Linked DNA regions of Homo sapiens: all the other regions are reported to be linked to region 2. The links are microRNA targets in miRTarBase. Many come from high-throughput screens and were not tested one by one. Region 2 holds a microRNA gene; each other region holds the end of a gene's coding sequence.
The links. The annotated mature microRNA hsa-miR-3923 reads AACUAGUAAUGUUGGAUUAGGG and lies in region 2 at 1,449-1,470, opposite strand. An mRNA with a match to its seed (bases 2 to 7 or 8) in the 3' UTR can be bound and repressed. Matches are read on the target gene's strand: a 7mer-m8 pairs with bases 2 to 8, a 7mer-A1 pairs with bases 2 to 7 and ends in A, and an 8mer does both.

Region 1 (3,000 bases), not on the chromosome of region 2:
GATGCAGGCTGGGAAGAATACTTTGATTACATCTTTCCAGAAGATGCTGCCAACCAACCTAACCTCAAACTCCTGGCCATGGCCAAACTGTGGAAGAAACAGCAGCAGGAAAAGGAGGATGCTGAGCACCATCCAGATGAGGACGTCGATGAGAGTGAATCCTGATCTTTTTTTCATAGACAAATGTTTTGTTATTTTTATAAATTAATTGTTTGGAACTCTTGTGACTCCTGGAAGTTCTTATATATTTCACCAGTAAGAAATTGATTGGTATCTTTGATGGCTACTTTTTAAGTTATTTTTTAAATGCTCTTGGGTTAGCTAGGGGTAGGGATTGCAAGTAAAGGACTTTTTTAACTGCTGGATTTGTTTTTCCAACTGAGTCCAAACTTTTCTAATGTCTGTCCACATCATGCATTAGGAAATGTAATTAAGGTAACATTCTACAGTTACTTTTCATGTCATACCCATAAAGATAGTTTATGCATTCATCTGAAATGTGTAACTTTTTCATGTCTTCAGAGTCACAGACTTGAGTTCATTTCCCAGCTCTGCCACTCATGATTATATAACTTAATTTTCATTTTCCTCATTCACAAAATGGGCCAATAGTTTGACAGCTCATTTTGAAGATTACATTATAAAAGGAATATACCTGGTGGGTGCATAGTAAGTGCTCAGTAAATTGTTTGTTCTAAGCCACTTTTAAAAATGGTTTCATTCCTTGTAGAATTGAATGCGAGTGGATTAATAATTTACCTTACTTTCTTACTAGTGTCCAGTTATATTGTTTTTTAGAACAACACTTGGAAAATAATTTGCAGTGATTATATTTCTGAACAAGGTTCAGAAAACATTGTTTACTAAGAATTTAGTCTAATAATTTCAGTTAGGCGCTCATCAGTTCTCCAGAGTGGTTGAGTTTGTAATACCTTGTTTAAAGAATAATGGCTTGTTCACGTGTGTGCTATGAAAAATGATGTCCCATGTTCACATAAATTTGGGAAATTCTGGACTAAGACTTAAGTCTCGTTAATCAAATCTCTTTATAGTTAGGCTTCTGTACATTATGTATCTCCAGTAGCAATGTTGCCATATTATTTATTTCCCAAACTTAGTGGACAATGGAGTCATTTCTACCTAGAGTACCAGTAAACATCTCCCAGTGTGCTATAGTAGAAAATGTCTACTCCTCACTGCTGACATGTTAAACTTACTCTTGGTTTAGAGCATGTGTAGAAACACCTAAGGTAGCTCTATGCTAAATAATGAAGAGTAGCACAAGAATGAATGTATTTGCTGATACGTTGCTCACATTCTCAAGCAAAAATTCAACTGCATTAACCGATCTGAGAGTTTTCCTTTAACCTGGACTGTGTTTCTCAAGCACATTTTTTCTTTGTTCACTGCCCAAGGACTAGAACTGTATTTTTAAGGTTGTTTTCCCCTAAAAGGACCTTTAGTAAGCAAATTTATTATTAAATGTGCACATCTTATTCACCCAAGGGAATAAAAGCTACTTCGTAATGTTGTTACTAAATTTTATCTTGAAAATAAATAACAGTGTTTGAGGACAGAAGAAACTAGGACTGTTGTTGAGATAAAATCTGTTTTCAGCCTGACTGCTTTAGTCACTGGACGAGCATCAGCTACTGCGGTGTCAGATCACTTCTCGAGTAGAGGTCTGCCTAGTGAGTGAGCAGGAGAACATCATCTTAATAGCCTTTGGCTCACCCAGAGTCAGGGAGAGATGAAAATAATAGGTCAGAATGCAAGTGACTTAATCACAGTCTTCCTAGAATTATCTGTTTATGTTGCATGAATGCATAAGAAAAAAATTCTGTCATGTTCCCAAGGTAGAATTGTAATAAGCATGTGCCAGTGTGAAAGCTGGAAGGAAAAAAGCTATTCTCTAACAGGAGAACATAAAGATTCATTTCTCTCCCACCCTCAACTCCACCAAAGTAAATCCTTTCGATAGTAAAAGTTTAATAATTTCTTGTGGGTTTTTCTTTCGTTAAGTCTTTCACTAACTAACTAACTGGATATTTTCACATATTACAGAGGAAGACACTACACATAAAATACATGGTTGGCCTATGATATAGTTATATGGCCTTTCTTTAGGAATTATGTTCTTTTCCCTCTCCAAAAAAAAAAAAAACCTCAAGTTTTTTTTTTTTTTTTTTGGCTTTTTAGAAGGGCAGGATTTAAGCAAAGCATTGTGAAGAGGAGAAAAGATCTAGGACTAACAAACAAACAGTATAATGGTATGAACGCAGGTGACTGGGAAGAATTTACTACACGATAAGAAGGGAGCTTCTTAAGTATGCTGGACAGTGATTGCTTCAAGTGTGCATTTTTAAAATACTACGTATGGAAGTCACAATTTAATTAAACGTATCTTAAATGATGATGACCTTTCACAATCCTGATTTTTTTTTTTTTTTTTTTTCTTGAGGCAGGGTCTTACTCTGTTGCCCGGGCTGGAGTGCAGTGGGACGATCTCAGCTCACTGCAACCTCCACCTCCAGGGTTCAAGCAATTCTTGTGCTTCAGCTTCTGCATAGCTGGGATGCCCAGCTAATTTTTGTATTTTTTTTAGTATAGATTTTGGCCAGGCTGGTCTCAAACTCCTGACCTCAAGCAATCAGCCTGCCTTGGCCTCCCAAAGTACTGGGATTACAATCTGATTTAGTTTTACAAATGACTAACAAACTTCAGAAAACATTCATAGAGTCAATAATGTATTATACATCTTAGATTTATACATTTCATATATGCTTTTAAAGCTTCAATTAACAGTTCAATACAAAATTTAAAAACAAATATATGCAGCAGTGGTTCTCAGGCACAGAACTGAGGAGGAGACTGGAGCAAGTCTTTTCCCTAGCATACATACAGTGAATACTATGAACCATGAGAGTGGTATGTTTCCTTCTGACCTAGCTGCCTTTTTGATTGAATTTTGTTACAATGAACAGCTTTAATAGGTATGAT
Region 2 (3,363 bases):
TTTTAGACAGGATACAGTCTTTAAGTTTGAGGTAAACATTTTAAAATGAGCATAAGCAGGAACATTAAAAAGAGAGGTGTTTAAACTACAGCAAATGTGATTTAATTCCGCCATAAATATTGCTAAGCACTGAAATTTGGCTGCCTTCCAGAAAAAAAAAATAATAAAGTAGAACCAGCTATAATCCCAGAATATGTTGTTTTTTTCACAGGAAAAAGACAAGTCTAGGTGATTCCTTTAGGTACATAATAGATCTGAATCCATGTTGGAAATTATATCCCTGCCCAAAAATAGTGTTTTATCTTTTTGCAATAAATTAACTATGTGCTCCTACATTATAAAAATTGTTTTTGCTAAGGACTTACTAATGTGTCATCAAATATGCTTATCCTATACCTTGAAAAAAAGCTAATCTTGTCTTCAACTATGAATTCTTTTCAACTGTGTTATTTCTATAAGACTTATACTTTGTTTTGTCAGATTGTATCTTAAATGAAATACATGATTCTAAGAAAAGTAAACTAAACAATTATATGCCAATAAAGCCCACATATTATAAATGTTTGTCTACAGAATAAGAGAATAATGTGTAATTAACTTGACCAGCCTCCAACAAAACCCATGCTAAATAGAAGAAGGTCACTTATTTTGATGAGCAGACTCTAATTGCTTCATTTATATTTTTGATTTTTTCTCAGAGATAATTAGAAAACGGATGCCAGATCCTGCATTCTGTTTTACAATACTAACACAAATTTTAATCAAACGTAATTTCTGAGAATTCCTTTTTGGGGGAATGAAAAGCCATAAGGTTTTTGGTGGAAATTGCTTTTATTTAAGCAATAAAAAAGTGTTAATGAAATTGCTTGCATTCTATTGAGCAATGGTAGTTCAAAGATCTTTGTTACTGAGTGTATTAGTTTGCTAGGTCTGCCATAACAAAGCACCACAGATTGAGGGTTTTAAGCCAAAGAAATTTGTTTTCTTACAATTTTCGAGGCTAGAAGTTTGAGATCAACGTTTAGGCAGGATTGGTTTCTTCTCTGGCCTCACTGTTTGGTTTGTAGATAGCTATCTTCTTCCATGGGTTTTCACATGGTCTTCCTTTTGTGTTTGCCTCTGTCCTAATCTCCTCTTCTTTTTGATTTTTATTATTATACTTTAAGTTCTAGGGTACATGTGCACAACGTGCAGGTTTGTTACATAGGTGTACATGTGCCACGTTGGTTTGCTGTACCCATCAACTCGTCATTTACATTAGGTATTTGTCCTAATGCTATTCCTCCCCAAGCTCCCCACCCCCCAACAGGCCCCAGTGTGTGATGTTCCCCTCCCTGTGTCCATGTGTTCTCATCGTTCAACTCCCACTTATGAATGAGAACATGCATTGTTTGGTTTCCTGTCCTTGTGATATTTTGCTGATATTTTGCTGAGAATAGTAGAGTGAGCCCTAATCCAACATTACTAGTTTCCTCTTCTTATAAAGAAGCTAGTAATATTGGATTAGAGCTCACTCTACCAGACTTATATTAGCCTAATTATCTCTTTCAACACCTGATACCCAAACACAGTAATATTCTGAGGTTCCGAATATTAGGACTTCAACATATGAATTTTGAAGGGACCATTCAGCCCACAAAATCATGGATACCTTCCTGAATGTTGCTAAATGTTATATTGTGAAGAAAAATTAAAGCCTGGTGAGTCCATGACACCGCCAGCATATACCACAGAAACACACCCATGTTGTTTCCAAGTAAAATGTGGATATACACAGACTTGCAAAATTAGAAAATTAAGAGATCAATTATTCTTTATGATGAACAATACAATAAAATGGCAAAGTGCATAGAAGGACCACCAAAAACCTCTTCTACACTTCTCATTCCCAAAACAAAGGAAAGCATGCTTGGAAAGATTACTGAAAGGCTCTGAAGAACCTCCACAAAAAATTTGCATCCTCTTGATATGGCCTTTTGTTGTAGTAAGTTGCAGTACTGCTCTTCAGCTATTTCAATAGAGAGGAAAGTCAGTGAACAAAAACCCCTGCCCCCATTTATTTCTAATGGTCCCGATAGTTTGTGTATACCGGGGACTCACATAGAGTTGTTCTCAGAGTGTGTAGACACCTTGGTAGGCATTTATTTGTGGTCTACATTTTTATCAAAGAACCCTCTTCGTAGCTGTCCTATTAGGTCACAAGGGATGTAGTTCTTGTTTTGTACATCATCATGCTCCTCACTCTCCTGCTTTTAATAAACCGGCTAATGTGCTCTAAGCATTATAATAGGAATCATGATCTATCATCAGGTTTGATCCCCTTATGTAAAACAGTGCCAGGGCTCAAGAGGAGCTCTATTATGTATGTTGATTGATTGGGCAACTGACACTTCCAGAATCTAGGTGATGTGGCTGCATAAAGCACTGGCAGTGTGTTGTAACCTGACACAAATTGCCTTCCAGTAACCTCCTATGAACTCTGTAATCTTTCCATTGGGGTTTGGATATTTGGTTAATGGATAACAAATTCACACTCTTTCCTACTTGCCAGTTTAAACCTTTCACATACCTAATATGTAAGTTGCACATATGCTTTTATGACACTTGAAACTCAACATACTTAACACCAAATTCATCCACTTGTTTTAAAAATTGCTTTGTCTCAGCCGGGCACAGTGACTCACGCCTGTAATCCCAGCACTTTGGGAGGCCAAGGCGGGTGGATCACGAGGTCAGGAGATCGAGACCATCCTGGCCAACATGGTGAAACCCTGTCTCTACTAAAAGTACAAAAATTAGCTGGGCGTGGTGGTGCATGCCTGTAGTCCCAGCTATGCAGGAGGCTGAGGCAGGAGAATTACTTGAACCCGGGAGGTGGAGGTTGCAGAGAGCCGAGATCCTTCCAGCCTGGCAACAGAGTGAGACTCCATCTCAAAAAAAAAAAATTGCTTCATCTCATTGTTTTTCTATTTCTTTTCTTTGAAACTTACTGTTGGCATCTGATGAGTAACTTTTTCTGTTCCTACTTCAATAAACAGATAAATTCTAATTATTTGTCATTTCATTATCTCTTACTTCTATTCACCCCGTTGCTGGTTAGGCATCTTACGATTTGACATTCATATCCTTAAAAATCTTCTAATTGATATTGCTGCCTCCACTTACTATCTATTTCAGTTATTCCTCACTGCTACGAAAGGCTTTTTTTGTAAAGCATATTTCTCATCATAAAATCTCAAAACACTTGCCATATTAAAAATAATTAATATAATAATAATAAATAAATAAACCTGTGATCTCTCTTTCAATTTAATAAAATGCAGATTCTTTATTCATTCAGATAAGATGTTGTCTAGGTGTATT
Region 3 (3,363 bases), not on the chromosome of region 2:
GATGGTAACAGCAAATGTGAGAGTAAAATAAATAATGCATGTATAGCACTTAGAAAATTGTAGGTCACCAAATTAGTGCCTGATAAATATTATTTTTATTTTGATTAGTGATAGCATTATATCAATGTGATGGAAAGAGTGTATTAATGTAGCATGATTTGTAAATATTCATTCCTTAGAAGGGAGGAAGGAAAAAGAAAGAGAGACAGAAAAAGAAAACCTAAAATTCAGACTTAAATGTGGCCACACGCCTCTTGGAATTTCACAATATTCATGATCACGTTAAAGACTTTGAGAAACTCTTTAAGTGTATTTTATCATTTCATTCCAAAATTGTTTGACTACAGCACATCACCTCTTCATCCCTCTTTTTTTTTTTTTTTTTAACATTGTCCAACCTAAATCTGTTCAACTTTGTCATTTTGGAAACACTATGCTAATGTGCCTTTGGAGTCCATATATAACACACTTGTTCCTTTGCTATTAACTGCAGTGCTAACAGTTTCGTTTGTGAATATTTCCAGGTACAGAAATCGAAAAAGTAAAGAACCAAAGAAGGAATATGAGAGAGTTACCTCAGGGGATCCAGAGTTGCCGCAAGTCTGAATGGCGCCATCAAACTTATGGGCAGGGATAACAGTGTGCCTGGTTAATATTAATATTCCCATTTTATTAATAATATTTATGTTGGGTCAAGTGTTAGGTCAATAACACTGTATTTTAATGTACTTGAAAAATGTTTTTATTTTTGTTTTATTTTTGACAGACTATTTGCTAATGTATAATGTGCAGAAAATATTTAATATCAAAAGAAAATTGATATTTTTATACAAGTAATTTCCTGAGCTAAATGCTTCATTGAAAGCTTCAAAGTTTATATGCCTGGTGCACAGTGCTTAGAAGTAAGCAATTCCCAGGTCATAGCTCAAGAATTGTTAGCAAATGACAGATTTCTGTAAGCCTATATATATAGTCAAATCGATTTAGTAAGTATGTTTTTTATGTTCCTCAAATCAGTGATAATTGGTTTGACTGTACCATGGTTTGATATGTAGTTGGCACCATGGTATCATATATTAAAACAATAATGCAATTAGAATTTGGGAGAAGCAAATATAGGTCCTGTGTTAAACACTACACATTTGAAACAAGCTAACCCTGGGGAGTCTATGGTCTCTTCACTCAGGTCTCAGCTATAATTCTGTTATATGAGGGGCAGTGGACAGTTCCCTATGCCAACTCACGACTCCTACAGGTACTAGTCACTCATCTACCAGATTCTGCCTATGTAAAATGAATTGAAAAACAATTTTCTGTAATCTTTTATTTAAGTAGTGGGCATTTCATAGCTTCACAATGTTCCTTTTTTGTATATTACAACATTTATGTGAGGTAATTATTGCTCAACAGACAATTAGAAAAAAGTCCACACTTGAAGCCTAAATTTGTGCTTTTTAAGAATATTTTTAGACTATTTCTTTTTATAGGGGCTTTGCTGAATTCTAACATTAAATCACAGCCCAAAATTTGATGGACTAATTATTATTTTAAAATATATGAAGACAATAATTCTACATGTTGTCTTAAGATGGAAATACAGTTATTTCATCTTTTATTCAAGGAAGTTTTAACTTTAATACAGCTCAGTAAATGGCTTCTTCTAGAATGTAAAGTTATGTATTTAAAGTTGTATCTTGACACAGGAAATGGGAAAAAACTTAAAAATTAATATGGTGTATTTTTCCAAATGAAAAATCTCAATTGAAAGCTTTTAAAATGTAGAAACTTAAACACACCTTCCTGTGGAGGCTGAGATGAAAACTAGGGCTCATTTTCCTGACATTTGTTTATTTTTTGGAAGAGACAAAGATTTCTTCTGCACTCTGAGCCCATAGGTCTCAGAGAGTTAATAGGAGTATTTTTGGGCTATTGCATAAGGAGCCACTGCTGCCACCACTTTTGGATTTTATGGGAGGCTCCTTCATCGAATGCTAAACCTTTGAGTAGAGTCTCCCTGGATCACATACCAGGTCAGGGAGGATCTGTTCTTCCTCTACGTTTATCCTGGCATGTGCTAGGGTAAACGAAGGCATAATAAGCCATGGCTGACCTCTGGAGCACCAGGTGCCAGGACTTGTCTCCATGTGTATCCATGCATTATATACCCTGGTGCAATCACACGACTGTCATCTAAAGTCCTGGCCCTGGCCCTTACTATTAGGAAAATAAACAGACAAAAACAAGTAAATATATATGGTCATATACATATTGTATATATATTCATATACAAACATGTATGTATACATGACCTTAATGGATCATAGAATTGCAGTCATTTGGTGCTCTGCTAACCATTTATATAAAACTTAAAAACAAGAGAAAAGAAAAATCAATTAGATCTAAACAGTTATTTCTGTTTCCTATTTAATACAGCTGAAGTCAAAATATGTAAGAACACATTTTAAATACTCTACTTACAGTTGGCCCTCTGTGGTTAGTTCCACATCTGTGGATTCAACCAACCAAGGACGGAAAATGCTTAAAAAATAATACAACAACAACAAAAAATACATTATAACAACTATTTACTTTTTTTTTTTTCTTTTTGAGATGGAGTCTCGCTCTGTTGCCCAGGTTGGAGTGCAGTGGCACGATCTCGGCTCACTGCAACCTCACCTCCCGGGTTCAAGAGATCCTCCTGCCTCAGCCTCCTGAGCAGCTGGGACTACAGGCGCATGCCACCATGCCCAGCTAATTTTTGTATTTTTAGTAGAGGCGGGGTTTCACCATGTTGGCCAGGATGGTCTCAATCTCCTAACCTTGAGATCCACCCTCCACAGCCTCCCAAACTGCTGGGATTACAGGTGTGAGCCACCGCACGTAGCATTTACATTAGGTATTACAAGTAATGTAAAGATGATTTAAGTATACAGGAGGATGTGAATAGGTTATATGCAAGCACTATGCCCTTTTATATAAGTGACTTGAACATCTGTGCCCGATTTTAGTATGTGCAGGGGGGCGATCTGGGAATCAGTCCCCTGTGGATACCAAGGTACAACTGTATTTATTAACGCTTACTAGATGTGAGGAGAGTCTGAATATTTTCAGTGATCTTGGCTGTTTCAAAAAAATCTATTGACTTTTCAATAAATCAGCTGCAATCCATTTATTTCATTTACAAAAGATTTATTGTAAGCATCTCAATCTTGGTTTGTCAGTTTATCTTAAGCATGTCAATTCATAAAAACAAGTCATTTTTGTATTTTTCATCTTTAAGAATGCTTAAAAAAGCTAATCCCTAAAATAGTTAGATCTTTGTAAATGCATATTAAATAATAAAGTATGACCCACATTACTTTT

Region 1: the mRNA of CRNKL1 is a reported target of hsa-miR-3923. Seed matches in the 3' UTR shown: 7mer-m8 at 770-776.
Region 3: miRTarBase lists EREG as a target of hsa-miR-3923. Seed matches in the 3' UTR shown: 7mer-m8 at 1,257-1,263.

What each region holds. Positions count from the first base shown.
Region 1 is chr20:20,033,360-20,036,359 of GRCh38, reverse strand. CRNKL1 (crooked neck pre-mRNA splicing factor 1) reads left to right here. Exons shown (of 14, transcript NM_001278628.2): 14 at 1-1,992. The coding sequence ends at 165. It overlaps NAA20 (N-alpha-acetyltransferase 20, NatB catalytic subunit), which reads right to left. Exons shown (of 6, transcript NM_016100.5): 6 at 2,705-3,000. Among named protein-coding and RNA genes, the nearest start is that of NAA20, 17 kb to the right of the region's middle.
Region 2 is chr3:79,506,044-79,509,406 of GRCh38, reverse strand. It overlaps MIR3923 (microRNA 3923), which reads right to left and starts at 1,520; the gene lies at 1,438-1,520. The region is part of intron 2 of ROBO1 (roundabout guidance receptor 1); the gene reads left to right.
Region 3 is chr4:74,384,203-74,387,565 of GRCh38, forward strand. It overlaps EREG (epiregulin), which reads left to right. Exons shown (of 5, transcript NM_001432.3): 5 at 525-3,363. The coding sequence ends at 606. Among named protein-coding and RNA genes, the nearest start is that of EREG, 21 kb to the left of the region's middle.